Homo sapiens: one gene and its partners. The protein of the gene in region 2 interacts with the protein of the main gene of each other region in a pairwise test. Each region holds a gene or a part of one and is shown on either strand. Other genes may lie near its edges. The genes, in order: MCM10, TRIM37, PRC1 and DZIP1L.

What was found.
Region 1: the proteins of TRIM37 (region 2) and MCM10 interact in a two-hybrid assay, tested with the Homo sapiens proteins (2 studies listed by BioGRID and IntAct).
Region 3: the proteins of TRIM37 (region 2) and PRC1 interact in binary tests that used the Homo sapiens proteins (3 or more experiments, as listed by UniProt).
Region 4: the proteins of TRIM37 (region 2) and DZIP1L interact in binary tests that used the Homo sapiens proteins (3 or more experiments, as listed by UniProt).

The regions. Positions count from the first base shown.
Region 1 is NC_000010.11:13,185,160-13,192,887, reverse strand, and holds part of MCM10 (protein MCM10 homolog), read right to left. Parts: intron 6,725-7,728; coding exon 6,608-6,724; intron 4,008-6,607; coding exon 3,808-4,007; intron 1,590-3,807; coding exon 1,489-1,589; intron 634-1,488; coding exon 523-633; intron 438-522; coding exon 320-437; intron 1-319. UniProt on the Homo sapiens protein: Acts as a replication initiation factor that brings together the MCM2-7 helicase and the DNA polymerase alpha/primase complex in order to initiate DNA replication. Additionally, plays a role in preventing DNA damage during replication.
Region 2 is NC_000017.11:59,026,620-59,034,347, forward strand, and holds part of TRIM37 (E3 ubiquitin-protein ligase TRIM37), read right to left. Parts: intron 5,472-7,728; coding exon 5,277-5,471; intron 2,105-5,276; coding exon 1,796-2,104; intron 1-1,795. UniProt on the Homo sapiens protein: E3 ubiquitin-protein ligase required to prevent centriole reduplication. Probably acts by ubiquitinating positive regulators of centriole reduplication.
Region 3 is NC_000015.10:90,977,507-90,984,560, reverse strand, and holds part of PRC1 (protein regulator of cytokinesis 1), read left to right. Parts: intron 1-420; coding exon 421-543; intron 544-782; exon of another isoform or gene 783-869; intron 870-2,470; exon of another isoform or gene 2,471-2,579; coding exon 2,580-2,813; intron 2,814-2,891; coding exon 2,892-3,062; intron 3,063-3,527; coding exon 3,528-3,677; intron 3,678-4,171; coding exon 4,172-4,319; intron 4,320-5,266; coding exon 5,267-5,403; intron 5,404-7,054. UniProt on the Homo sapiens protein: Key regulator of cytokinesis that cross-links antiparrallel microtubules at an average distance of 35 nM. Essential for controlling the spatiotemporal formation of the midzone and successful cytokinesis.
Region 4 is NC_000003.12:138,098,388-138,106,115, forward strand, and holds part of DZIP1L (cilium assembly protein DZIP1L), read right to left. Parts: intron 5,666-7,728; coding exon of another isoform or gene 5,585-5,665; coding exon 5,084-5,584; intron 4,607-5,083; exon of another isoform or gene 2,849-4,606; intron 1-2,848. UniProt on the Homo sapiens protein: Involved in primary cilium formation. Probably acts as a transition zone protein required for localization of PKD1/PC1 and PKD2/PC2 to the ciliary membrane.

The DNA of each region.
Region 1 (7,728 bases), on a different chromosome or scaffold from region 2:
GAGAGAGAGAAAATGACAGCCAGCATGTGAACCTACGCTCTCCCCCTTCACAAAAACCCTCTTTACATACACTTCACTCCTTTCCCTTTTCCATGGTGATAACGACTCTAACCTGTACCATTTGGTGTTGGGAGTCACCAGTGTAAGAAATAATACAGCCTTAAATGCTATTCAGGTTATGGGAAAACTATTTTAAACTTTCAGAGTTAAAACGCAGCCAACCGAAACCTGAAGTCACATTCTGGAAATCGATGAAGACGTTCTGAGGACGCCTGAGATGGATGACCCAAGCGGGGAATATTAAATCTGCTCCTCTTACCGCTTCTGTATTTCTTCTGATTTCCTTCTCCTCATCTCCAACATCCGCTGCTTCTGTTGCTTCAAGAGTGCTGAGGCCGAGATGGACTTGATGGCTGGTTTTGGGCTCCCCATAATCCCTGAAACAGAAGCCCAGACTGAGGGGGTGCCCTGGGAGGCTGAGGGAACACAGGGACACACGTGTGGCCATGCAGCTGATGGTACCTGAAGCTGTGGCTTTGGCTAAATGTTGTTTTAAGTTCCTGGCTCCACACGTCGGCAGGTCCATCAGTTCCTTGAACTCCTCAGAGCAAGACAGGCTCTTCTGGGGTATTCCTGTGCCAGGTCAACACCAGCTTTAGAGGATTCACATTCAGATGGTTTGAGGTCATATGACATACCACTTTCTAAACTCTGCACTTGTAATTTTAGTCATACGTAAACGAAGAAGACGGAATCCCAAGAGGAAAGAAAAGAATCCTTAACCTCTATCATCAGACTCATAGGATGGCAGGGTATCTCGACTATATTTTATTTCTAGTAATGATTAGAATATTAAGCCCTTAAATCTGGGGGTCATTCCATACCCTGTTTCTGGAATATCCGCTAAGGATAAGGGTCCCTGACCACAAGCCCAGGATGGGGGCTGCATTCTCTGATCAAGACTTGTTTTTATTTGTTTTTATTTTATTAAAAATTTTTTTGTTTTTATGACCAAGACCCATTTTAACAAAAGATAACCAATAAGCTTGGCCAGGAAGATAATACTGCTGATTCTAATGCTGGATGTAAAGAGTTGGACCCAGATACACCAAGAAATTTTAAAAAGCATACTAAGGTAAGACATAGCTAAAATCAATATGCTGTTTTTTTCCTTAAGGTCCTGCAAACCTGGCTTGATTCCTTTAGGTTAGACCGCGCCACTCACTAAGTACAGGTGATGACTGGATTCTTATTACTTAAGAGTATGAGCTGTATCCATTTTCAACCCTAAAGACTGCTTGCTTGCTTGCTTGCTTGCTTGCTTATTTATTTATTTTTGTGCATGAATAAGTTCTTAGTGGTGATTTCTGAGATTTTGGTGTACCCATCACCGGAGCAGTGTACCCTGTACCCAATGTGTAGTCTTTTATCCCTAAGGCTGCATAATTAAACTGGAGAAAGAAATTTCTTATGGAAAAACAAAGTTACCGAGTTTTTGCCGTGTTTCCTGGATGATCAAGTTTGTGCCCTTAACAACCAGATTACTCAGAGTGGTTTGAATCTTCTTCTTAGGAGCCACAGCTGCTGCACTGAAATGACAAGTCACCCCCAAAAGGAGAATCACTAAAGCCTCAATGCTCTGATGAGGTAAAGAAGGCATAGATATCATCATTTATTACACACACCGTCAAAGTTTCTCAAAACACCATCTAAGTAGGCTTTCTTAATGTTACGGCCCAATAGCATAACTGGTTTATGCACTGTGTCACAGAGGAAAAGCTAGAGGCAGCCTACAAATCCACTTGAGGCCATTCTGGAAGGAAATTTGGCAAAAGAAATAAAAAAAAAGCCAATGCTTTGATCCAGCAGTCTGGATATTTATCTTAAAATAATTAAGGATTATGCAAAAATTTAGGATATTAATGGCAGCTTTGTTTATAATGTCATACATTGGAAACACCATTAACGTTCACCCACAGGGAATTGTTTAAATGAATTAAGGCAGAGTATGCAAAAGAACACTATGTAGCCACTGAAAATACATGAGAAAAACATTAATTATTTTACACTGGAAAAAAAGTGGATACAAAGAATAGGAACAATATGATCTCATTTTATATTACTAAAAATGTACACATATGAAGAAACACAACACCTAGGAGTATATATACCAAGGAACTAACAGTTTGGGGTTTTTTTTTTGAGACAAGATCTCACTCTGTTGTCCAGCCTGGAGTACAGTGGAGCAATCCTGACTCACTGCAGCCTCAACTTCCCCAGGCTCAAGCAATTCTCCCATCTCAGCCTCCCAAACAGCTGGGACTACAGGCATGTGCCACCATGCCCAGCTAATTTTTTTTGCATTTTGTAGAGATGGGGTTTTGCCATGTCGCTCAGGCGGGTCTCAAATTCCTGGGCTTAAGCAATCCTCCTGCCTTGGCCTCCCGAAGTGCTGGGATTACAGGTGTAAGCCACTGTGCCTGGCCTAGAACTAACAGTTTTTCAGGTGATAGGATTATAGTTGGTTTTTATTTTCTCCATTGGTTGGATTGTATGTTCTTTTAAAAGACTAATATACATGTATTGTTTTAGCAGATTGGAAAAATTCAGAAATAATTTTAAATCTCAAAAACATGCTTACTGTTAAAAAAGAAACAGGAAATGAGTCCTCTTGCCCCATTCCTGCTGGATTGGGAACAAAAATCTATGTTTTATTCTTGGACCAACTGTAGCTGCCTCGTGCCAAGTCCTCAGATATGCTTTATATAATGTAGTGACGAGGCCACTGATTACAAGCTTATCCAAACCATAGCCTGCGGGCCACATGCAGCCCAGGATGGCTTTGAATGCGGCCCAACACAAATTCATAAACTTTCTTAAAACATTAAGAGATTTTTCTTTTCTTTTCTTTCTTTTTTTAAGCTTATAGGCTATCATTAATATATTTTATGTGTAGTCCAAGACAATTCTTCCAAAGGGGCCCAGGGAAGCCAAAAGATTGGACACCCCTGGATTACAGCGTCAGGGGCTGTAGTGACTCTGAACCCCCAGGCAAGGGGCCATGGATGCCTGCCCAGCATCGCCCCACTCCCCATGTGAAGCTTCATAGTATATTCACTCACTGAATGAAATTTGGGTTCCATGAGGTCTGTAGCCTCACTCATATAGTCATACGAGAAATAATTAAAAGGGTGTTAACACTGTAATTAACACATTTTTAATGGCCCTGATGAAGGTGCACTATTCACATTAGAAGTCAAAGAGGGGCTGGGAGCAGTGGCTCATGCCTGTAATCCCAGCACTTTGGGAGGCCGAGGCAGGCAGATCACCTGAGGTCAGGATTTCGAGACCAGCCTGGCCATCATGGTGAAACCCTGTCTGTACCAAAAATGCAAAAATTAGCTGGGCGTGGTGGCACGCGCCTGTAGTCCCAGCTACTCAGGAGGCTGAGGCAGAAGAATCACCTAAACCCAGGACTTGGAGGTTGCAGTGAGCTGAGACTGCACCACTGCACTCCAGCCTGGGTGATAGAGTAAGACTCCGTCTCAAAAAAAAAAAAAAAAGTTGAAGAGGAAGAGTGGGCTCTCTTAAAGTCCAACACAACATAAGTCAATCTCTCTCTCTCCTGAAAGTTTTTCTCTCTACCTGGGAATAAAAGCGGTCTTTAACCAACTTGTTTCAAGTAGTGAGTTATGAAAGATAAAACCTGTACAAGTATCCTATGACGGTTACAGGAAGGTACAACCAGTAGGTTTAGTCTTTGATAAGCAAAATCCTCTGCCCAAAAGAAGCCCGAGAACGTCTTACATTGAAGCTGCATACGAGGCAGAAGAAACCCCTCCGTAGTAAAAGCCATCTTGGCACAGCCGTTCTTTGAGGCTGGTGCCTCTGCGGGCAAACTTCTTTGGAATTCGTCCTCCAGAGAAGGTGGACTGCAGATCCGCACGCTTTGCGCTGAGCTTCTTGTACTGAGCCTGGACATGGTACTGACAGTACTCACAGTCACGCTGCAAAAGGCAGAGCAGTGGCATCAGGATGAGGGCAACAGGCTGGGAAACAGCAGTGAGCAGACACAGTTCCTTCTCCCCACTTCCCGGAACATGACGCATGCAGAGTCCTCCCTGCTGACCTCCACGACCGTTCCCAATGTGGAAGGGCTGCTCAGTCCCTGAGGGGAAGAAGTTCTTCCCTTCGAGTCCCCTGAAAGCACTGTTCTGGTGAAATACCCCTTGCCCTCTTTCTACAAAGGAAATCAGCTTTTAGGATGAACCTTGAAAACAAGTTAGGTGAAAGAAGTCAGACACACAAGGTCCTATGTTATTTAATATAGGACCTATGTTATTTAATATAAAAGGAAGTTTTTATAGAAGAGGCAAATCCATAGAGACAGAAAGCAGATTAGACGTCACCAGGAGACGGAGGGAGTGGGGATGGGAGTGATGACTTTATGGTGCCATTGTTTTTACAGGGTGATGGAATTCTGAAACCAGGGAGCTGGTGGTTACACAACTAAATATCACTGAATTATATATGTATTTTAAAATGATTAACTGTATATTGTGAATTTTGACCCAATAAAAAATAATTTAAAAACAAAATCAGCTCCCAGCGAGGTTTTTCTAGCTGTTTCTCTGGTTGATCCTCGGACAAGTGCTATCCTTTCAGTGAAAGAAACAAAGAGAGATGGTGCAGCATTGTTCTGCTGGGTGAACAGTAGTTACGGCGACAATGGATTTTTTTTTGGAGACAGAGTCTCGCTCTGTCACCCAGGCTGGAGTGCAGTGGCGTGATCCTGGCCCACTGCAACCTCCAACTCCTAGGTTCAAGTGATTCTTCTGCCTCAGCCTCCCAAGTAGCTGGGATTACAGGTGTGCACAACCACGCCCAGCTAATTTTTGTATTTTTACTGGAGACGGGGTTTTACCATGTTGGCCAGGCTGGTCTTGAACTCCTGGCCTCAAGTGATCGGCCCACTTCGGCCACCCAAAGTGCAGGGATTACAAGTGTGAGCCACCGCCCCATCCAGACAATGGATTTTTAAGAATCTAATTCTCACGGGGAGATCTGTTGGGTACTTCACTCTGAAACCTCATTTTCCAACCGTCTCCCACCTTATTCTTTCCTGTCCACCAATTAATCTAATAGGAAGGAATAAGGGAATAAAAAAAGATTAAACCAAAACCTGTCATTTAATCCTTTCAAAGAACTCTAAGAAGTACCTCTTCACACCTACTACAATGGCTATAACAAAAAAGAAATAGAGTAACAGGTGCTGATGAGGACAGGGAGAAACTGGAAAGTTCATCCATTGCTGGTGGGCCACTTGGGAAACCAGTCTGGCAGTTCCTCCAAACTCTGGACAGTTACCATGTTGACCCAGCAATCCCACTCCCAGGTATATGCCCAAGGGAGTGGAAAACATACATCCACATAAAAACTTGTATGTGAGTGTTTTAGCAGCATTATTCATAATAGCTAAATGTGGCAACAACCCAAGCGTGTATCAACTGATGAAAGAATAAACAACGTATGGTATATCCATACAATGGAATATTATTTACCCACAAAAAGGAATAAAGTGTTGATAAATGCTACAGCACGGATCAATTGTGAGAAAAATTATGCTAAGCAAAAGAAGCCAGACAGAAAAGGCCACATATTGTGATTCCATTATATGAAATGTCTAGAAGAGGCAAATCCATAGAGACAGAAAGTAGGTTAGTGCTTACCAGGGGCTGGGGGAGAGGAGACTGGGGAGTGATTGCTAGTGGGTACTGGGTTTCTTTCTGGGGCAATGAAAGGGTTCTGAAATTACACAGTGGTGATGGTTGCACAGCTCTGTGAATGTACTAGAAATTACTGAATTGTTGACTTTATTTATTTATATTCTTTTTTGGAGACAGAATCTCACTCTATCGCCCAGGCTGGAGTATAATAGTGCGATCTCAGCTCACTGAAACCTCTGCCTTCCAGGTTCAAGTGATTCTCTGGCCTCAGCCTCCTGAGTAGCTGGAACTACAGGCGCCCACCACCATGACCGCCTAATTTTTGTATTTTTAGTAGAGATGGGGTTTCACCATGGTGGCCAGGCTAGTCTCAAACTCCTGATCTCAGATGATCTGTCCGCCTCGACCTCCCGAAGTGCTGAGATTACAAGAGTGAGCCACCACACCTGGCCTGAATTGCTTACTTTAAAAGGGTGAATTGCATGGTATGTGAATTATACCTAAATGAAGCTATTATTTTTTAAAAAGCCCTAAGAAAAGGTATAATGGAGTTAAAATATAGGCTAAAATACAATTTTCATTGTATTTCATCATGTTTGCTCTGTGGAATTACAAGAATTAAAGGCAAACAAAAATTCTGTCTTAAACTTCTTGGTCAGATAAAAGATCACTTTCCTAAGAGGTTAAATCCCCTCACCTTTCCCCTGCCCTCACTTTTTTAAACTGGCAGTTATTAACCACACATTAAATTTTCTCATTTTGACTCTTCCTTTAAGTGGGAAACTCAGTTCCAAACTGGTCATCACAGCTAAAGCACCAACAGTTTATTCCTAACTGTTCTTTTCTTTAGCAGAAACCATCCTAACAAGGCTGAAACCAACCAAATTCACAGTCTGCGTGCACGGCTCTCCATTCTTCTTCTTGGCTTTACAGGTTCCCAGGTCAAGAGCTTCACCCATAATTAAGACCTTCTGAGGATGATCGATAGATAAACACACCTGTAAGAAAAGGTGGGGCAGGAGTTAAAGGCGGACAAAATTATGGCCTTTTATTAGCAGGAATAGAAAAAAGAATGGTTGGTGCTGATTTAAGAAGGTTATTGCCAGGCGCAGTGGCTCACACCTATAATCCTAGCACTCTGGGAGGCCGAGGCAGGTGGATCGCTTGAGGCCAAGAGTTTGAGACTAGCCTAGGCAATGTGGCAAAACCCTGTCTCTACAAAAAACCACAAAAATTAGCCAGGCATGGTAGTGCGTGCATGTAGTCCCAGTTACTTGGGGGGCTGAAGTGGGAGGATCACTAGAGCTTGGGAAGTCCAGGCTGAAATGAGCTGTGATCACACCACTGCACTCCAGCCTGGGCAACAGAGTGAGGCCGTCTCAAAAAGGAGAGAGGTTTTAGTGGTCTAAAGGAATTTGAAGCCAGGGCTCTATAACCGTTTTAGGAACAGGGATGCAGAAGGCACCTTCAGTTCTTTTCCCATTTTCCATCCTTTCCTTCATCTTTGCGATTGGAATCCTGATTTTCTCTAGGCTGGCTGACTTCTCAGCCTCAGGTCATAGATCCTGTTCCCTGTTCTCCCAGCACTCCTTAGAGCTAGCATTGGTTATGTGATAAGTTCTAGATGCTCAGACATAAACAGGAGTTGGTAGGGAAGCTTCTGCTTTCCTGACAAAATGAGTTAGGAGGCTGGCTCCCCCTTCCTCTTCACTTCTTGCCTTGAATGGAGATGACTGGAGGGAGACAAGTCCCTCAAGGGCCTTGCTGAACTCAGCTCTCTCCCTTCTTGTTTGCAATTCTCTTCTTGGACAGACTGTACCAAGAGGGACTGTCCTGAATAGCTCGGGCTTTGTCCTCACCCCTCCTAGGACAAGATCTCTTACAACACTTGAGCTCAATAAGCCAAGTAGCCTCCAGGTTATAAAACCCAGATCAGGGTGCTTTCATAATCCCTCCGCTGCAGGGTGAAGAGAGCCATGAGCAGACAGGACTCTGCCTGCCT
Region 2 (7,728 bases):
TGGAGAGGACACAAAAAAGGACACCCCTGCCAACAAGAAACTATTGACCCCGCACCTCCTCCAGCTTCTACCCACTTCATTGTGAAACTTCTTTTAAAGAAGTTGTGCATTTGTGCTCTGGTCCCTGACCTCATTCACTCTTCTGCTACACTACTCCATGGGAATAGTTCTTAAAAAGGCCACTTGGCCTCTTGCCTTGACACTTCTCAGTGATACTTAACACACTTAACACAGGGGTAACCACTCTACTTCTTGAGATGCATTATTTTTGATTTTTGAGATATTATCCCTTCTAGTTTTTCTCCTACCTTAATGATTGCTCTTTCAATTTCCTTTGCTGGCCTCTCCTATTTATCAGATCTTTAAATGTTTAAGTGCCACAGAGTCAAAAATTTTGCTTCTCCATTGAAACTCCCTCCAAACTTGACCCTATTCAGTCTTCTGGATTTAAATAATATAAAATACTATTGACTCCCAACTGTTTATATCCAGCATTGACCTCTCTCTGAGTTTCAAAGTTGTGTACCATTCACGTGTCTATGACATTTTACTAGGATATCTAGCAGGTGTCTCAAATTAAACATGTTTAAAAAAGAATACCCAACTTTCTGCCCTTACCTCCTCCCAAGCCCCATAACCTGCTTCTTATCTGATTTGCTTCTCAATAAATGATACCACTGCCTATTAAGTTGCTTAGGCCAAAACTTAATCATAATTCTTAGTTTCTTTCTAAATAGAACTTTCCTAAAATTCTATTTAGGCTTTTTCAACTATGGTTCTGAGAAAGAACTCAGCCCTGCTGATCTAAGACTGGATTAACTTCCCTCCTATGCATCTAGAATAGAATAGCACATCCTTAAGAGAACTAAGAAAGATGGGAACCTCAGTCAAGAAAGGCTGCTAGACTGTGAACAAGCCCCTCTATCCATTATTGTAACTCCAGAAAATGCCATCATATTTCACACAAGATAATGTAATAGGCTGTTACTGGTCTCACAATTCCTGTCCTCAACCCTTTTCAGACCCTTCTCCACACAACAAGCAAAGTCATCTTTGTAAAGTGTAAATCAGATTATAAACACCCCTTATTTTTATTCTCTAGAGGCTTCCTCCTTACATCATAATAAAACTCGAACTCCTTTTTGAGGTTTTGCAAGACTCTCCCTGATCTAAATTCTGCCTACCTCTCTCTGACTTCGTCTCCTGCTAGTCTCCTCTCTCTGCTTTCTTTGCCATACTGGTCTTCCTTCAATCCTTCAAATACGCAAAATAAATCCTGTGTCAGTGACTTTGCAGTTTCTGTTCTGTTTACCCAGAACACTGCTTGCCCTAGATCTATAAATAGCTGCCACCTTCCTAAACTTCAGGTCTCAGGTCAAGTGCTGCCTCCTCACAGAGACTTTCTCTGACTACCCCAATAGAACATGTCTCATCTGCTCCTCCCATCCCACTCCTCGGTTGTTTCCTTCACAGCACCTTTTACCCACTGAAATGATCTTTACTTACTTGTCTACACTTTTTAATGTCTGATTCCCACTACTAGAATACAAGATCTATGATGTTAAGAATTTTGTCTTGTTTATTGCCAAATACAGAGTAAGCAATCAAGAAATGTTAGTTCTATTATATAGTAAAAATATACGGAATCAATTTTGGATGAAGAAAAAAGTCACATGTAATTTGTAGTCTTAACTCACTGGAAGAGTGGTATTTAAATATTATTCTTTTGAAAAAACCAGTCATCTAGTTTCCCAAATAACGTGTGGAGAAATGACACTGGGAACATATTACTTACAGTTTCGTATGTAACAATTGGCAACTGATGACTTTGCCAGGAGTTCCATTCCCAAATCCTGCAATCTGCCAGAGTTTTCAGTTCCACATGCAGCCAGAGCTGCCTGGTCAGCAGAAAAAAGGCTTGTCTGCATGTCTCCAGAAGCAGCACTGCTGCTTTTTATTTCTGAAAGTGTATTCTTTACATCAGTTTTCATACATCGAACTTCGGCCATTTGAGTTTTGAGTCTTTTTAGCATCTTTAAATCAGAGGGCACTCGCCACATTGCCTGTTGCTTCCTTTGGTCTTTATCTTTTCGAGAATATGATGCTTCAGAGAAATTGACAAGTCATGTTAACATAAACGTTAATATTAATGAAATCATTTGTACCATGAATATATGCAAATTTGATGTGTAAAATAAGCTAGCGTGCTTTACGTGGTATCAACAATAAAACATGCACTAAATTCCATTAATGAAAATAAAGATAAAGAATCCTACCTTATTCACACCTTCAGAGTTAGAATCTGAGTCACATCATACTCAAGTTCGAATTACACATTTAATTCTAAAAGTTTAAAAGCTGCCCTACTGCCTTGTGCTTTCTTCTTTAAACTTCTCCACTTTTCTGAAACTTTCTACAGAGCTTTTATTATGTTTATAATTGAAAAAAAAGACAAAGAAAAATCTAGAAACCAAATACTTTGTCAAATCTGCCATATATAACATTATATTAAAAATACATATTTCTGGCCAGGTGCAGTGGCTTATGCCTGTAATCCCAGCACTTCAGGAGGCTGAGGTGAGAGAATCGCTTGAGGCCAGAAGTTCAAGATCAGCCAGGGGAGCATAGTGACACCCTATCTGTACAAAAAAAAATTTTTTTATTAGAACTTCCATTTCTGATAATTTTCTCAGAACTGTCAGCTTTCTGAAATACGGTTTGAATCTAACCACTTCTAAAATAAAACAATAGCTCTCCATGCCTAGTATGAATAAATTCCTCCGGCTAGCATGCAAGTCCTTTCATAGAATGGACCCAACATGACTCTAGTTCTACTTACCACTATATGTACCTTAAAATCTGGTTCAACTAGATTACCTGATACCTTTTACAGTACTCCTTTACATGGTTAAGAACATGAAGTTAATCTGACAAATGTTCACTAAATATGTGTTAAATAAATACACAGAAAAAAATAAACATCAAAGCCCAAGCAGGCCACGTGCAGTGGCTCACGCCTATAATCCCAGCACACTTTGGGAGGCCGAGGCAGGTGGATCACTTGAGCTCAGGAGTTTTGAGACAAACCTGGCCAACATGGTGAAACCTGTCTCTACAAAAAATTGTAGAGCACTCCAGCCTGGGCAACAGAGTGAGACTCTGTCTCAAAAACAAACAAACAATCAATCAAACAAAAAATGACCCAAGCAAGCCTTTTCAATAAAAAGAAAGTCATATATTTCTGCACACTAGCTTTTATTAACATCCCTTCACTGAAAGGTATTTTCATTTGGCTTCCATGAGTATTTTTTCTCCTTTCTAAAAGCTCTTTATCTGGCTCATCTTCCTGACACTCAGTAAAAACAGATATTCATCAGGATTATGTTCCTGGCTCTCTTCTTTTAAAATATTCTTAAAACTCCTTTGCAATCTCACACCCTTGGTTTTAATTATCCAGTATCACCTCCAGAAAAATAACTGTCTGTATTCCAGTTCATTTTTTTTTTTCATGGAGTTTCACTCGTTGCCCAGGCTGGAGTGCAATGGCACGATCTCGGCTCACTGCAACCTCCGACTCCCAGGTTTAAGCCATTCTCCTGCCTCAGCTTCCCAGGTAGCTGGGATTACAGGCACCTGCCACAATGGCCGGCTAATTTTTTGTATTTTTAGTAGAGACAGGGTTTCACCATGTTGGCTAGGCTGGTCTCGAACTCCTGACCTCAGGTGATCCACCCGCCTCAGCCTCCCCAAGTGTTGAGATTACAGGCGTGAGCCACTGCGCCCAGCCCCAGTTCTTAATTTTTAGCTGTCTACTGGTCCTTTCTAATTTGATGTCACACTGTTATGCCCAACTCAAGATGTTTAAATCCAAAACTTGCTTTTTCTTTCTACTATTTTCCCCGCCCTCATTATTGCCAGCATTTTATCACCTAAATTTGAAATTCAGATCATCTCATTTGTATTGTTTTTACACAGAAAACTAGTTTTACACAGAAATCTTACTATTTAGTTTGCATTTTTCCCAATGATACTGATTATTTTCAAAAACACGATTTTACTTGTCTATAAAATATACCATTGCATGGTTACACTGTAATTTATTCAGCTATAACTGTATTGTTGAATATTTTTAAACATCTGCTTGTTTTCTCTTTGGAATATACTCCTCAAAGTGAAATTACAAGTTTAAAGGATATAGATATTTTTAAACTACTACAAAATTGTCCTTCAAAAAGGTTAAACCAACTTACATATCTACCTACAGAATCAGAACCTGTCTGTTTCACTGGGCCTTTGCAAACAACACTTAACATTTAAGTAAAACTTTATATAAAGCATACTTGGCGCACACATAAAAGGCAACTGTTTCATAACCTGAAGATAGTCTTTTAAGCTGAGGATCCAGACTTTCAGGAAGTATATCTGGCTCTTAGGAAAGAAGAAGCCTAAATAATCTGGGCTCCATGTCCCTACACCAGTAGAAGAGCTCTATTTCTCTGTTATTTACACAGAGGTTCTGCCTTGGACTTTGATTGAAAAATGAGTTATCTTGCCTTAAAACTACATCAAAATCAGAGTTCTAAATCATTGATTTGATGTATATAATACTATTGTTTAAGAAGGTAGAAAAATATTTGGCATATATTTTTGAATATACTGACTATACTTTAGAAAGCATTCCAACAAAAATGGTTTTTAAAATGTAGCTTTTAAAGGCAAATACTTAGTTGTCCAAAATGACTCTATCCCCGAGAGTTTAAAAAAGCCCATATTTGACTATACAAATCTCCATTTTATTATAGTAACACAAATGTAATTTCTATTTAACAAATAACCTTTGCACAGAAAACAGTGCTGCCAACTGGCATACATTTTTAAGCTACTGAACATCAAAGAATGAGTAAGTCACCTTTTTCTACGTTCAATTTAGATATAGTTCCACTTGGAAGTAAGGGAATTCATGAAGCCTGACCAAAAAAAGTCCATTCATAAAGAAGATAACCGTATTTCATATGGATCAAACTGTCAGGCAAAATCTGAGTAGCAAGTCACAAAAAACCTTCTTGCAGGCATTTTTACTTTGTTTTTGCACAAATCACCTTTGAACGGTAATTTAAAAACTAATTTGGTTGACATAAATGTCATTTTTATGGTATACAATGAAAAACACAGAAATACACCATGTTCCACACATAGCTGAAATACTTAAATGAAAATCCAAGAGTTCTTTTAGAGAACCACAGAAAAAAAGGAAATTATCATTGTTATTATTTTACCTGTGGGCTGCAGAAGTGAAGCAGGTGGGCGAGGCTGTAAGCCCCACAAATTTTCTATACTGCTCCGGTCCTTAAGGTCCAACAAATGTATTAAAATTAATGGATCAATGTCTAGTAAACTACTGGTAGCAGCGGAGCATAAATGTGTTCTTCTTGATATTCTACTACTGGAACCCACATAACCATGGCTACTACCTGCAAAAGAGGCGTAGAAAATGATATATATATGCACAAACTTAGCTATACTTAAATGAAAAAATGAACTGGTTAACATTATATGAATACTTGTCTATGGACCTATCTCTTAGGAGTTCAGGTTCATGATAAGAAGCAGAAAGAAGGAACCAGGGCCGGGCGCGGTGGCTCACGCCTGTAATCCCAGCACTTTGGGAGGCCGAGGCGGGTGGATCATGAGGTCAGGAGATCGAGACCATCCTGGCTAACAAGGTGAAACCCCGTCTCTACTAAAAATACAAAAAATTAGCCGGGCGCGGTGGCGGGCGCCTGTAGTCCCAGCTACTCGGGAGGCTGAGGCAGGAGAATGGCGTGAACCCGGGAAGCGGAGCTTGCAGTGAGCCGAGATTGCGCCACTGCAGTCCGCAGTCCGGCCTGGGCGACAGAGCGAGACTCCGTCTCAAAAAAAAAAAAAAAAAAAAAAGAAAGAAGGAACCAGACAGTTGTACATTAGCACAGTGATTGAGTGGTGGCCTCATTAGTACTTAGAATTCAGAAGCAAGCCTCAACCCCATCCTGAGCCCTAGAAAAAAACAGATGACAATGTGTACGATGTGCACAATTGGGGGGATGAGAGGTAAGGGTAAGGAGAAGGAGATTATATCCCATGACCACCTGGTTTTAGATAAAAGAAGACAAATTCCCATAGTATAACAGATTACAAAGAATTAGACACCAAAATAGAAATCTCCCCCAAGTCTCTGGACAGTAAAATGTATAGGTCATGACAGTTTGGTAGACTTTTTCTACTTTGATTAAATAATGGGGTACAATTTGAAGTTTTTGGACTGTCATGTTAATGACTGATGCACATTACAGACATCTGTAGGCAGATATTATGCCTATACCCCTATATTGGACTATGCTCTTTAAGCCAAGAAAAGCATCTGACTTTTCTCTAGCACCTAGTATAATGCATAACAAATACCAGATATGGAAATGTTGCTTAAAACTGACCTTCTTCAATAAAGCTGTTTAAATATATTTTAAAGAGATAGAACATTTTAAAACAATGCTACACGCAGGAAAGTAGATAATATAAAATATTAAAAAGTCAGGTTCCAACTACCCATGAGTATTTCAGAGAGATCCAGCAGGATATAACTTAGGAGGAAAGTTCCATTGTTCAGAAGCTTCAAGCCAATTAATAATTTATGCTTTTCACATCCTCATGTTCTCACTGTCTCCCACTTCTGCCTCCTCTTCTAAGGATTATTATCTCACTGACAGTTTTTCTTCCCAGCCTCTGTATTACTGCAATTCCTATTAAATAACAGAAAACGATTTCCCCTTCACATTGAAAACTGTTCTTTGTTGTGTTTTGAGACACAGTCTCACTGTTGCCCAGGCTGGAGTGCAGCGGCCCGATCTCCACTCACGGCAACCTCCGCCTCCTGGGTTCAAGCGATTCTCCTGCCTCAGCCTCCCGTAGTGGGGACTACAGGCATGCACCACCACACCTGTATTTTCAGTAGATACGGGGTTTCACCGTGTTAGGATGGTCTGGATCTCCTAACCTAGTGATCCGCCCGCCTCAGCCTCCCAAAGTGCTGGGATTACAGGTGTGAGCCACCGCACCCAGCTGAAAACTGTTTTTACCTCTTTTCTTTTACTAAGGAATTCCCAAATTGGGTTGTATGTCAGTCAGCTGAAGGAGTTTTTAAAATTACATCCTAGATACACTGAACAAGAATACTGGGGTGAGAAGCTGGGTGCAGTGGCTCACGCCTGTTATCCCAGCACTTTGGGAGGCCAAGGTGTGCAGATCACCTGAGGTCAAGAGTTAGAGACCAGCCTTGCCAACATGGTGAAACCAAAATACAAAAGAATAGCCAGGTGTGGTGGCAGGCACCTGTAATCCCAGCTACTCGGGAGGCTGAGGCAGGAGAATTGCTTGAACCTGGGAGGCAGAGGTTACAGTGAGCCAAGATCACACCACTGCACTCTAGTCTGGTTGACAGAGTGAGACTCCATCTCAAAAAAAAAAAAAGGATACGGAGGTGAGATCCAGGACTTTTTCCCAAAAAGCTACTCAGATCGTTCTTATGTATAGTTAAGTCCAGTAGCCCAGTGAATGGAATCTATTGCCCTAATATCTGATTCTCCTTTAAAAATGTAAGTTGCTCATTCTTCCATGTTAAAGGCACTTACAGTAGAGAAAGCGGTGTCTCCTGTTTCTCACTGCTTTTTCAGGCCATTATTCTCACTACTGAACAAA
Region 3 (7,054 bases), on a different chromosome or scaffold from region 2:
TGGTTTTGAAGTCCCTTCTTGAAATTTGAGGAGGCTGGGTGCGGTGGCTCATGCCTGTAATCCCAGCACTTTGGGAGGCCGAGGCGCATGGATTGCTTGAGGTCAGGAGTTCAAGACCAGCCTGATCAACATGGTGAACCTCCGTCTCTACTAAAAATAAAAAAATTAGCCGGGCATGGTGGTGAGCACCTGTAATCCCAGCTACTCAAGAGGCTGAGACAGGAGAATCTATTGAACCCGGAAGGTAGAGGTTGCAGTGAGCCGAAAGCACGCCATTGCACTCCAGCCTGGGCAACAGAGCGAGACTCCATCTCAAAGAAAAAAAGAAAAAGAAAAAAGAAATTTGAGGAGTTTGGTATTGGTGTTGGGAGTTTTTTTCCTCCATTGCCCCAAACTTATGGACTGTTTTCCCTCTTGTAGGAACTCCTGGATATGATGATTGCTGAAGAGGAAAGCCTGAAGGAAAGACTCATCAAAAGCATATCCGTCTGTCAGAAAGAGCTGAACACTCTGTGCAGCGAGTTACATGTTGAGCCATTTCAGGTCCGTGGCAGCCCACAGGGTCTCTGGTGATCTGTCTGGGGCCTGAGACTTAGAAAGCAACGTTGACTTGGGCCTGCAGATGGAAGGCTTCCTCGTAGGGATGGAGCTAGACGTAAGAAGTGGGGAAAACATGCTGTGTAGTTAATTAGGCCCAGCAGAGTAATTCTCACCTCTGTAGAGAGTTGCCCTGGTAAGAGGTGAAGCAACTAATAGATGATCAAAAAGAAGCTGCTGCTTACCATAGTTTTGCTTTGTAGGGAATATGAATTTTTTTTTATAAACGCTGAGAAAAAGGTAGGCATAGATGGTGCTGCAGTGTTCTTTCTCTGAAAGAAAATGAAAACAGGAACAAAAGTAACTAATGATTAAAAGGAATACTATGAAAACACCAACCTTTGTGGGTTTTATCATACCCAGAAGCTGCATACCACTGAACCAGCCAAAATGGCTTCTTCAGAAGAAATGTCTCAAAAGCTGGAATACTGGGAGTGCATAGTCCATTTCAGAGCATGCCATGACATCCATCTGGGTATGGAGCTGAGAAGTGGCTATATTGTGGTCCACTGCAAGTCAGGGACTTGAGTGAGGACACAGCAAGGATGAAATGAATAACAGATGGGGTCCTGAAAATCTCTGCTTAGAACCAGTAAAAATAGTGCCAGGATCATAAAAATTAGGACAGATGTGGAGCTTGGAAAGACAATGAGTACACCCATAAGGTTCTCAGGTCCCTCTTCCTGTTACAGGAAGACCTGCCTGGATATCTATTTGGAGTTAGCTTAGGAGGGAGATCACCTTTAAAGGGCAAAGGATAATTCATACTTGGTAGCCAAGAGCAATCAGGCAGAAGAGAACATGAAGTGGAGCTTCCTGGAGTCAACATAAATGTCATAAATATAATTGATTTTGGACATAGTTTCTCTTTCTTTTTTCACATTCCATGTGAAATTGGGCGAGAAGTGAGGTGTACAACGATCATCTCCCTTAAGTTACCTGATGTTCCTAGTTCACAATGTTAAATGAAATTGTGTAAATGTATAGGACATTTAAGAAAAATGTATATGTCCTATAAAAAAATGCCACTTTTTTTTTTCTTGTTAACCAGTTAGGAGTAGAGCAGGGACTACCAGATGGGTTTTTGTTGCTAAGGTGAGACGATGTTCATAGGATTAGCAGGATGAGTATTTAGATATGAGCTAGGCATGCCACCCTATAGCTAACCCAAAGCAAGCTTTCCAGCCAATTTACACTGTTATTTCTTTATTTATTTAGAGACAGAGTCTCGCTGTGTTGTCCAGGCAGGAGTGCAATGGTGTGGTCTCGGCTCACTGCAACCTCCGCCTCCCGGGTTCAAGCGATTTTCCTGCCGTAGCCTCCCGAGTAGCTGGGATTACAGGTGTCCGCCACCATGCCTGGCTAATTTTTCTATTTTTAGTAAAGACGGGGTTTCACCATGTTGGCCAGGTTGGTCTCAAACTGCTGACCTCGTGATCTGCCCACCTTGGCCTCCCGAAGTGCTGGGATTATAGGCGTGAGCCACCGTGCCTGGCTGCCAATTTACACATTCTATAAAAGTGCCTGGTGCCTGGAGTAGTCTAATCATAGAGACAAAAGGTAGAATGGTGGTTGCCAGGCTTGGAGAAGGGAAAAAATGGGGACTTATTTGTTTGAGTATGAAGTTTCACTTTTGCAAGAGGAAATGAGTTTTGGAGGTGATGGTTATGATTGCACAACAATATGACTGTACTTAATACCAATGAACTGTACACGTAATGGTTAAGATGGTAAATTTTATGTTATATGTGTTCTACCACAAGTTTTAAAATTGGGGGGAAAAGTACCCTGGTACTTACTCACTTTTCCTCACTGGGACCTTCCTTAGGAGACCCTCTTTGTGCCATATTCTGTTGACCATGAGTTGACTTACTTGTTAGTTTAACTGAAAGTCTGTCATCCACGCCTTCTTATGTTGTCCTTCTCTTCCTCTGAAGGAATTCACTTGGAATCTTATAACAGTGGTACGTTGTCTTATTCAGGAAGAAGGAGAGACGACCATCTTGCAACTAGAAAAAGATTTGCGCACCCAAGTGGAATTGATGCGAAAACAGAAAAAGGAGAGAAAACAGGAACTGAAGCTACTTCAAGAGCAAGATCAAGAACTGTGCGAAATTCTTTGTATGCCCCACTATGATATTGACAGTGCCTCAGTGCCCAGCTTAGAAGAGCTGAACCAGTTCAGGCAACATGTGACAACTTTGAGGGAAACAAAGGTACACTGCCTACATTTGTTCTTCCTAAAAGTCACTTTGGTTTTCCTCTAGGTATCTTGTAATTGCTTTGTTTTAAAGGCTTCTAGGCGTGAGGAGTTTGTCAGTATAAAGAGACAGATCATACTGTGTATGGAAGCATTAGACCACACCCCAGACACAAGCTTTGAAAGAGATGTGGTGTGTGAAGACGAAGATGCCTTTTGTTTGTCTTTGGAGAATATTGCAACACTACAAAAGTTGCTACGGCAGGTACTGTCTTCTCAAATTATGCCCTAGGATCTCCGTAGTATATAGCAGTTTGAACAAAACTGACAGCTGTTTCTTCAGTCTTAAATAAGGAGACAATGTAAGGTAAGAGAATGAGGGAAGCTAAGGATAGTAATATATGATATACAACCTTGATTTTTGTTTAACAGTTAAAAAACCTTTATATGGCTCCAAGAAAATGAAATTATAGATGAAATAATATTAGTCATTTGAATTAGACTAGTGTTTAATTAAAATTTTTTTCAGTTCTAAATTTGAATGCTAATTCTTGGGGTCTGAGATCCCGACAGCCTTACAGCTCGTGTTTAGGAGGCATGAAAACATGCTACTTTGAACTCTCATGAAAGTGCCTCCTCCTCTACTCCAGACATTTCTTTGCGGGAGGCTAGAGGGCTAGCCTCTGTGCTGCTGCTTTGCCGTGAGTGACACTGGCTTTCTATGCTGTAGCTGGAAATGCAGAAATCACAAAATGAAGCAGTGTGTGAGGGGCTGCGTACTCAAATCCGAGAGCTCTGGGACAGGTTGCAAATACCTGAAGAAGAAAGAGAAGCTGTGGCCACCATTATGTCTGGGTCAAAGGCCAAGGTCCGGAAAGCGGTAAGAAACCCAGTGGGTACTGGGTCAGCAGTCTTCTCTTAGCACTTCTGTGTTAGTCATAAAGACTGTTGTTGATTTGGCCAGGCTCAGTGGTTCATGCCTCTAATCCCAGCACTTTGGGAGGCCGAGGCAGGTGAATCATTTGAGGTCAGGAGTTCGAGACCAGCCTGGACAACATGGCGAAACCCTGTATATACTAGCCAGGTGGTAGTGGCGTGCGCCTGTAATCCCAGCTACTTGGGAGGCTGAGACAGGAGAATCGCTTGAGCCTGGGAGGTGGAGGGTTGCAGTGAGCCAGAATCGCGCCACTGCACTCCTGTCTGGGCGAGAGAGTGAGACCCTGTCTCAAAAAAAAAAAAAAAAAAAAAAAAGTGTTGATTTATAATACCTTTGTGGCTTTGCATTATAATTTTACTTAAAAGGGGGGGATCTTTTGCAAACCTGAGTGAATATAAAACTATGGCAGCCACCCTTAACAAGTTTCTTTCTTTCAGCTGCAATTAGAAGTGGATCGGTTGGAAGAACTGAAAATGCAAAACATGAAGAAAGTGATTGAGGCAATTCGAGTGGAGCTGGTTCAGTACTGGGACCAGTGCTTTTATAGCCAGGAGCAGAGACAAGCTTTTGCCCCTTTCTGTGCTGGTTAGTACAAGAGTGAGGTCTTTGGTTTGTTTGTTTGGAGACAGGTCTTACTCTGTTGCCCAGCCTAGTCTCAAGTTCCTAGGCTCAAACAATCCTCCCAACTTGGCCTCCCAAAGTGTTGGGCCACCACACCCAGCCAAAAGTGGGGTCTTCATGTGGCCTGCTCACTAGTTTTTAAGACATCCAGACATTCAACAGGAAGTATATCCTTTTCTGAACAGATAAAGCCACCTTTTCAAGACATTTAGCATAATTGCCATTCCTGTATGAAAAAGCATTTGCAAATTTTATTGGGAAATATTGGTCTCTTGCTTTCTGAAGCAATATGTCACTGTAGCCTCTAGCTGTGAAGCTTAAGTTTTTATCAGGTGCTTACTTTTTGCCAGGTGCAGTGTCAAACCCTTAATATTATTTCACATCCTCATGTCAAGAGGTGAGGATACTAAAGCACATAAATGCTGAGTCATTTAACCCAGAGACATATAATGGTAAATGCCAGAGCCTACGTTTGAGCCAAAAGGAGCTTGACTCCTGGAGTCCAGTTGAATGCTAGTCTGAACTGCACTGAATATAAAGATGGAGCTACCCCAACTAAATTCAACAGATGTTTTTGCACATTTTCTGTGATCCACCCCTCTACTGGCTGGGCAAGACAGAAAAGCAGAATATGAAAGAAACCGAAGACAAGGCAAGAGATGATGCAGATTTTTGACAACATTATTTTAGTCTCTATCCTAGTCTCTTAGGCCCTACTCCCCCAGGCTGATTGTGACAAAGCTGGTTTTTATTAACCACTATATATCTATTACACACACACACACGCCTCTTCCTGTATCAGTTTACTATAAGGAAAGAATCTATTTCCATTTTAGGGAATCGGGGATTCGTAAAATTGGATACTAAATACTAGAGGAATTGTTTTAAACTACTGGGCCTATATTTTGCAGAGGACTACACAGAAAGTCTGCTCCAGCTCCACGATGCTGAGATTGTGCGGTTAAAAAACTACTATGAAGTTCACAAGGAACTCTTTGAAGGTGTCCAGAAGTGGGAAGAAACCTGGAGGCTTTTCTTAGAGTTTGAGGTATTGTCCTAGTTTTTGTGTTTTTAACTGTTAAGAAAGCATGCCATGTACGGAATCAATCCAGTTAGCTTTGTTCTTTGCCAGGCTTTTGATACCCCATCTTTATCATTAAGTCTCTCTGAATTTCTGCTGACCGCCTCTGTTTGATAAGCTTATCTACAGGGTCTTTTAAGAGAAAAGCCCAAAATTAATGGCTTAAATAAGGTAGGCATTTCTTGCATGAATGAGGTTCAGAGGTGGGCAGTGTGGGGCAGGCATGGCAGATCTGCACAGTGAGCAGGACCCCAGGCTTCTCCGGCTCAGGGCGCTCCCCCACCACTAAGGGTGGACCTCATCTTCAGGGCCAGGATGGCTGCTAGAGCTCCCACCCTGATGGCACTTTTTTTTTTTTTTTTTTTTTTTTTGAGGTGGAGTTTCGCTCTTGTTGCCCAGGCTGGAGTGCAATGGTGCGATCTTGGCTCACCACAACCTCCACCTCACAGGTTGAAGTGATTCTCCTACCTCAGCCTCCCAAGTAGCTGGGATTACAGGCATGCACCACCACACCCGGCTAATTTTTTGTATTTTTAGTAGAGATGGGGTTTCACCATGTTGGCCAGGCTGGTCTCAAACTCCTGACTTCAGCTGATCTGCCCACCTCGGCCTCCCACAGTGCTGGGATCACAGGCGTGAGCCACCACGCCTGGCCTGATGGCACATGTCATACAGTGTGGTGGAGGAAGGAACAAAGAAGGCATTGCCCCTCACTCCTTCAAGAGCTCTTCCCGGCTCTCTTCACAGCACCGTGGCTCACATGCTCTGTCACCTGCTGGTGAGGCTGGGTGAATTGCTGCCCCAGGTAAATTCTGGTTCTGTTAAACTAAGGAAGGAGAGAAGAATGGATGTTGGGGCAGGCAACTAACATTCTCTACCATTCCAACTTTTGCTATACTTAGAATATTGCATGGGTATTGATTCCTTTTCTTCTGATAGGCAACATGGTGGGTTCCTTCAGAGCATTTTAGAGCTCAGGGACTGTGGTAAAGCAAGTGAGGTGTGTAGGGCACAGATGGAAGGAGACCTTGTTCTCGGGTTCATGCTGGCCCTGTTAGAGCTCAGAGGGCCTTCAGAGAATCTGAATTCAACTCCTTCAAGTTTACAGGCAGCAAACTAGGACTCAGAAGTGGAGAGAACTATGGGATATCTTACAGCTGCTTAAGAACAGATGTCTTTGTCCTCAGTTATTCTTTACTTCTGGTTACAACAAGAAGAGTAAACATAAATAAGGAGGCCAGGTGTGTGTGGTGGCTCACGCCTGTAATCCCAGCACTTTGGAAGGCCGAGGCAGGCAGATCAGGAGGTCAAGAGATCGAGACCATCTTGGCTAACACAGTGAAACCCCGTCTCTACTAAAAAAATACAAAAAAATTAGCCGGGCATGGTGGCGGGCACTTGTAGTCCCAGCTACTCGGGAGGCTGAGGCAGGAGAATGGCGTGAACCCGGGAGGCAGAGCTTGCAGTGAGCCAAGATCGCACCACTGCACTCCAGCCTGGGCGACAGAGCGAGACTCTGTCTCAGAAAAAAAAAAAAAAAAAAAAAAACGTAAATAAGGAGCTAAGGCAGCAACCTTTGTTGACATGCCAATATTTAAGAAGAAAACAAGAAATGAAT
Region 4 (7,728 bases), on a different chromosome or scaffold from region 2:
TCCCATCCCAGGGTGGAGAAACACCAGAGGCAGAGAGGTTAGCAAATAAACAGCATCTGTAATTCCACATCCCTCTCCTAAGACATTTTAGACATAAGCAATCTATCACATCGTCTTCTCACTGTAAAATTTCAGAATTCTTCTCAACACAGCTTTGGAGGCTGCCATTGTTAGTTAATCCATAGGCAGATTATTTGCTATCTTTGCAGACAATTGTGACAGGAATTGCCAGTTGTCCCCCAATACCCATTTTCCCTTTCTTCCTTGGTAATAGTAAGTCTGTGGCCAATGAGAATAAACACTCTATGTCCCAACCTTCCTAGCAACCAGGTGTGTCCACAGGACTTACTACTAAAAGGGTTCTGACCCTTTTAATCATAAACATCATATCAATTATATCAATTTGTTATCAATTAATAATATATCATAACGATTCCTTCTGTCCCACTGTGATATTGTGATACAATAAGAATGTAGGCTGGGCACAGTGGCTCACACTTAAAATCCTAGAACTTTGGGAGGCTGAGGTGGGCGGATCACTTGAGCCCAGGAGTTCGAGACCAGCCCGGGCAACCTGGAGAAACCCTGTCTCTAAAAAAATTAGACAAACATGGTGGTAGGTGACTGTAGTCCTAACTACTCAGGAGGCTGAGGTGGGAGGATCACCTGAGCCTGGGAGGTTAAGGCTGTGGTGAGCCATGATCAGACTGCAGCCTGGATGACAGAGTGAGACCCTGTCTCAAAAAATAAAAAAGAATGTATATTTGGTCTTTGTTCCTTCCTAGTTTCTGGCAAGGAGGTCCTAAAACACTTACAACAAGCTGGTTCAACCTGCAGCCAATAGGCCACATGTGGCCCAGAACAGCTCTGAATGCAGTCCAACACAAATTTGTAAACTTACATTATGAGATTTTTTTAGGAATTTTTTTTTTTAGCTCATCAGCTATCATTAATGTTAGTGTATTTTATGTGTGGCCCAAAACAATTCTTCTTCTTCCAATGTGGCCCAAGGAAGCCAAAAGATTGGACACACCTAACTTACAATCTTCAGAGTGATAAGGGCAGTAAAGCACCTTTTGTAATAATATTTGGTCTTAGAGATTCTGAGATCCTTGGAATCTCCAGAGTAATAAGAGTGTCTACTATTGTTTGAATGTTTGTCCCTTCCAAATCTCATGTTGAAATTTAATCTCCAGTGTGGCAGTGTTGAGAGGTGGGGCCCAGTGGGAGGTATCTGGGTCATGGGGCAGATCCCTCATATATAGATTAATGCCCTCCCTTGGGGGTGAGGGAGTTCTCATTCTTATTAGTTTGACAGAGCTGGTTGTTAGAAAGAGCCTGGCATTCCTCTCCCCTTACTTCCTCTCTTGCAATGAGCTCTGGACAGGCCAGCTCCCCTTCACCTTCCACCAGGAGTGAAAGCAGCCAGAGGCCCTCATCAGGTGCCCAGTCTTGAACCTTCCAGCCAGCAGAACTGTGAGTCAAATAACCTCTTTTCTTTATAAATTATCCAGCTTCGGTATTCCTTTATTGCAACACTAAACTTACTAAGACAGTGTTTTTTGTATGCTAATGAAAGGACTGTTGGCTGGGCACCTTCTGCCCCACCCCGCAAATGACTTTCTGGTGACCAACCCCCATCCTTTTTTTTTTTTTGGCTCATCAGCTCTCATTACGATTAAGATGCCGGGCTCAGGTAATCCCCCCAGGATGGGGGTTGGTCACCAGAAAGACCAAGGCATGGGTAGAGGGTTGGAACTTTCAGCCCCACCCTCCAGCCTCCAGGGAGGGAAGAGGGGCTGGACTACTAAGCAATGGCCAATGATTTAATCAATTATGCATGCTTGGTGGAATCTTATAAAACCCCTAAATGATGGGATTTAGAGAATTTCCAGATTGGTAAACACTAAGGTGCTAGGAGATGTCACACTCAGAAAGGGCAGGGAAGTTCCGAGTCCCTTCTCCCATACCTTGTCCTCTCTTGTCCTCAAGTGCATCTCTTCCATTTGACTGTTCTGACTTCTATCCTTATAATAAACTAGTAATAAAGTGTCTTCTTCCTGAGTTCTGTGAGCCATTCTAGCAAATTATTGAACCTCAAGATGGAGTTATGGGAACCCTCAATTTGTAGCCAGTTAGTCAGAAGTACAGGAGGCCCAGGTATCTGAAGTGGGGCCAGTCTTGTGGGACTGATCCCTTAACTCATGGGATCTGATGCTAACTCCAGGTAGATAGTGTCAGAATTGAATTGAAGGGCACCCAGGTGGCATTGGAGAATTGGTTGGTGTGAGGAAGAAAAACACACATTTGGTGTCAGAAGTGTTATAAGCAGAAATAGGTAACCCATCCATCCGTAAACTATGAATGTCTTAAAAACCTGAACCAGCATGATTTGTGCCCACATCCTCAGAGCCTGGCACAGGGCCTAGCCACCATGACAATTTTTATTAAAGGGCAAATGTCCCTAATCCATACTTCCATGGAGACACATGCAAACGCTCCATGTTGCTTTGGGAAATGAACTGTCACTTGGTTGAATAATGGAGTCAGTATTCCAGAATAGGCCTGGCTCCACCAATCCCTTGTCACACGTAGATTCAACACATGCACACACAAACCCCTCACACACACCTTTACACAACACACTCCTCTACATACACATACAAATCCTCCATCATATATAAATATGCACGCACTCACACCCTCTATAAATACACCCTTAGACACATATACATCCTTCTTCTACATACTCATCCTTACATACACTCTCCATAAGTACAAACACACACTCTTACACACATATATACCCTTCATTCATTCACACACACACAAACACTATTTTTTTTTTTTGGCAGAGATAGCTGAGGTTTTATTTTGGACCAAAAAAAAAAAGCAATTGAATTGTTTTGTAGCTGGAGGCATGGGCAAGGGGGGTCCCTAGGCAGTAAACTCCCCCGCAGGTGGGTTGAGGGCTAGGGCTGAGCCTCAGGTGGGTCTCCCGTTCCCTGTGCTACCCTGCACAGCAGCCTCCCCCGCTGGGCTCTGGGGCAGCCGCAGGAGGGGCAGGCTGGGAGGGGCTGCCACAGCTGTTCACTTGGGCAGGACGTCAGAGGACTCGGACACCAGCTTCCCATCGCAAGTCTCTATCTTCTTCACAACCACAGTGGCCCTGGTGGAGCTGGTGCGGCTGAAGGAGCTGGAGCCTGCGCCAGAGCCAAAGCTGGAGCCCAGGCCGTAGCTGAGGCCAGGGCTTGTGAGGCCCCCATAGGCCGAGCTCAGACCACCTGCATAGCCGCTGGTGGTCTTTGTATGGATACTTGTGTTCTGCATCTCAGACTCCAGCCGGCTTTCCTTGCCCTCCAGCAGCTTCCTATAGGTGGCGATCTTGATGTCCAGGGCCAGCTTGACATTCATCAGCTCCTGATACTCACGCAGCTGCCGCTCCATGTCCTGCTTGGCCCGCTGCAGGGCGCCCTCCAGCTCGGACAGCTTGGCGTTGGCATCCTTAATGGCCAGCTCCCCACGTTGCTCGGCATCTGCGATGCCCTCTGGCCTTTGAGGCCCTCAATCTCAGCCTGGAGCCGGCTGATGTTCTGGTTCATCTCAGAGATCTCAGTCTTTGTATGCTGCAGGTCATCTCCATGCTTCCCAGCCAGCATCTGCAGCTCCTCATACTTGATCTGGTACATGCTCTCAGCCTCAGCCCAGCTGCAGTTGGCGATCTCCTTGTACTGTGCCTTGACCTCAGCGATGATGCTGTCCATGTCCAGGGAGTGACTGTTGTCCATGGACAGCACCACAGGCGTGTCCGAGATCTGGGACTGCAGCTCCCGGATCTCCTCTTCATACAGCTGCCTGAGGAAGTTGATCTCGTCAGTCAGCCCTTCCAGGCGAGACTCCAGCTCTACCTTATTCATGTAAGCTTCATCCACATCTTTCTCGATGAAGGCAAATTTATTCTCCATCTTTGTATGCTTATTGATCTCATCCTCATACTTGTTCTCGAAGTCCTCCACCCAGCCCCTGCATGTTGCCAAGCTCTGCCTTCAGCTTCAGCTTCTCCTGGCCCAGAGTCTCCAGCTGCTGCCTAAGGTTGTTGATGTAGCTCTGAACATGTTGTCCATGTTAACTCTGAGCCGTCTTCTGCTGCTGCAGGAGGCTCCAGTTGGTCTCCAGCATCTTGTTCTGCTGCTCCAGGAACCATACCTTGTCTATGAAGGAGGCAAACTTGTTGTTGAGGGTCTTGATCTGCTCCTTCTCCTGGGTGCACATGGCCTGAATGTTGGGGTCCACCTCCAGGTTAAGGGGGCTCAGCAGGCTCTGGTTGACAGTGATGGCAGTGATGCCTCCCATGCCACTGGCCCCACCATAGCCTCCGCCCAGGTCACCCCGGAAGCTGCTGCTGCCCACTCAGGAGAAGCTCAAGGAGCTGATGCCAGCACTGGGCCCACTCATGTAGAAGCAGCTGCTGAAGACCTGGGGGCCAGAGGTGGGCACCTTGTAGGACTTCTGGGTCACCCTGATGAACATGGTGGAAGCAGGAGTGGAGGCAGGTGGGCTGAACCAGGCGGAGATTCCAGAAGGAGCAGAGAAGCTGCTTCTTGGTCACTAACACTATTAATACACCTTTTTATACATGCTCCAGAGTTGTATCCTTTATAACATAGTACAAGCACACATTACACACCACACACCCTACATACACACAGAGGTACCCTTCAAGTATTCACACACACACACACACATTAAACACACACACATGTTCACATCATTTACAAACACACACACTCGCCATACATTCATGCATATACATACACTAGACATGTACCCTCTCCATAAACACGCACACCTCCCACACATGTACAATCTACACACACATACACACACACACACACTGTAGAACCTAATGAGACACCCCCAGGCTCTCTGGCCATGAGCAGCATCTCTGAAATCTGCTCCTAACCAGTGAGAACAGCCCCCCAGCAGCCTTAAGGTCCCAGCAGTGCTGCCCAGTGGCAACAGTTGCCCCAGTGGCTGGGGCACACAGCCCTCCCACTCTCCCTGCCTGGTGGAGATTCCTCACCGTGTGGTAGCTGTGGGTGCCTGTCTGCATTAGCAGCTGCTGCAGGGTGCTGATCATCTTGCGACGCCGGCGGCTCTCCTCCCGCACACCCTTGAGCTCGTCAGCCTGGCGTCCCAGCTCCTGCTGACCACGCTGCTGCTGGCCCAGGCTGGTCTGCAGCCGTGCCTCCAGCTGGGCAACACTGGCACTCAGGCAATCCTGGCAGTGCAGCAGGTACTCAATGATGAGCTGCGCCAGGCGCAGCACCTTGAGCAGTGCCGGGTCCACAGGCTGCCCACAGCGGCTGCACACCTCCCGGTCCAAGTTGCAGAAGGTGATGCCAGCAATATTCTCCTGCAGAGTGGCCACATCCAGTTCCCGGGCCACGCGGTCTACATCCAGGGTGCTAATGCGTCTCCAGTCCATGCTATCATGGCGAGGCTGAAACTTGAAGGTGGGGAACGTGTAGGCCCCAAAGAGGGGGCCACTGAGGCCCTCAGCAGTGGCAGCTGGGGACTGCATGGGCAGAGGAAGCCCTGAGCTGACCACCAGAGGAGGGGGGCACCAAGGCCACGGCAGTAGGCCAAGGAGCTGAGAGAAGGCCTGGAAAATAAGAAGAGAGTCCAAGTTAGGTGAGGTGTGTGTGGCTGCACCTACTGTATATCTGGCCAGCAAGGGCCTAAGCGGGGCAAAGTGAGGTGTCTGTGCAGCAGCTGTAGCATTCATGGTGTGTGCTGACATGGCCAGAGCTGTGGAAAGAAAACATGGGCTTTGCAATCACACAGATGTGGATTCGAATGCTCTGCCTTGGGCAAGTCCCTGCACATCTTTAAGCCTCCTGTGTCTAAGGAGGAACATGGGTCCCACTGTGCAGGCCTGTGGTGAGGAATGAGGCAAGTGAAGCACCCAGCCTAGTGCCTGGCACATAGCAGGTCCTCAGTGAGCCCCCTCTGCAAAGCCCACCTCCACTGCAGGAATGCCTGGCAAAGGCCTTTGTCAGCAGGTGACTATCAAATTTACAAATGGGTCCTTCTGCAACCCTATTTTTATCTCAAGATAAAGTCCGACAACTTGCTGTGAGTGACCAAGGTTCCTAATGTCCACCCTGTCTTCTCTTTCTCATATAACTACAGGATTCTAATGGAACACGAGTGAACTACCTTTCCCAGCTTCTCCAGCAATAACGTGTGATCATATGACTAAGTTCTCTCTCCTGGAATGTGAGTGAAATGATGTCCACCCCTGTCAGGAGGGGCTTAAGAGAGTTACGGAGTCTCTGCCACATGGTGCTCAATCCATCATGGGCTTTTTTTTAACTTAATAGTTAAGTAAAAAGATCTCTAGTTTCTTTGCCAAGACTCAGATTCTACTCTCTAAACTCTTGGTGAGCATATGAACTGTTCTCTCTGAAAAGTAATTTGACAATATCAATGGGAATTTTGAACATTCCACTACTAAAAATTATAATTATGCTACAAACTCATATGTACAAAGGTACTTGTGAAAAAATTGTCATTGTAGCATCTTTTATAAAAGCAAAGTAAAAGAAAAAGTAGAAGAAAGCAAAGTACAATGTATCTCTATGCAATGGAATATTATGCAGCTATTGATTGGTATAAAGCAGACTTACATGTACTGATATGAAATGATAATCTCCAATATATATATATGTAAACACACACAAAATAGGCATATATACCTCTATTTCTGTTTTAATGACATATTAATATAATCATATTTAATAACTCACCAAAGTGAAAGATATATATCATATTAGAATGGTTGTCTATGAGAGGAGGGAGGGAAATGGGAGTGTGGAATGGGGATAAATAAATGGATGGATGGTGTGTGGGTGGTGATGGTCAGATAGACAGGTAAATAGGCCTTCACAGACCAATGATGATCATTTTATATAAATATATATATATATACATATTCAGTCGTCTGTCAGTGTCCATGAGGGATTGGTTCCAGGACCCTCCTCAGATACCAAAATCTACAGATGCTCAAATTGCTTATACAAAATGGTGTAGTATTTGCATATAACCTATACACATTCTCGCACACACTCTAAATCATCTCTAGATTATTTATAATACCTAATACAATGTAAATGCTATAAAAATAGCTGTTATACTTAATTATTTAGGAATAATGACAAGAAAAAAACTCTGTACATGTTCAGTACAGAAGAAACTATCCTTTTTTTTTCAAATATTTTTGATCCGCAGTTTGTTGAATCTGTGGATGCAGATCCACAGATATGGAGAGTCAACATATATATACACCCATACACACACATACATATGAAAGACTCATATTTGTTATAATTAGTTTTATAATGAATAAAATATGCTCATTTATAATTCATATGTATGATTCACTTATGTATATTATTTCATAAGCATAGACTGTTTCTGGAAAGATAGACAAGAAGCTATTAGCAATGGCTGCCTCTGGGAAGTGAAAATAGAGATTACAGGACTTTTATTTTTCACTTTCTACCTCTCTGTACTATTCAAACTTCTTATCATCATCTTCTATCACTTTTATTATTTTTTAAAATAAAACATAGAATTTCAGTTCTTGCAGAAGTGAGAATCTGACTAAGGCAACAAGAGGTACACTTTACCCTATTTAATCAAGTCTTTCGAGATTACATGATT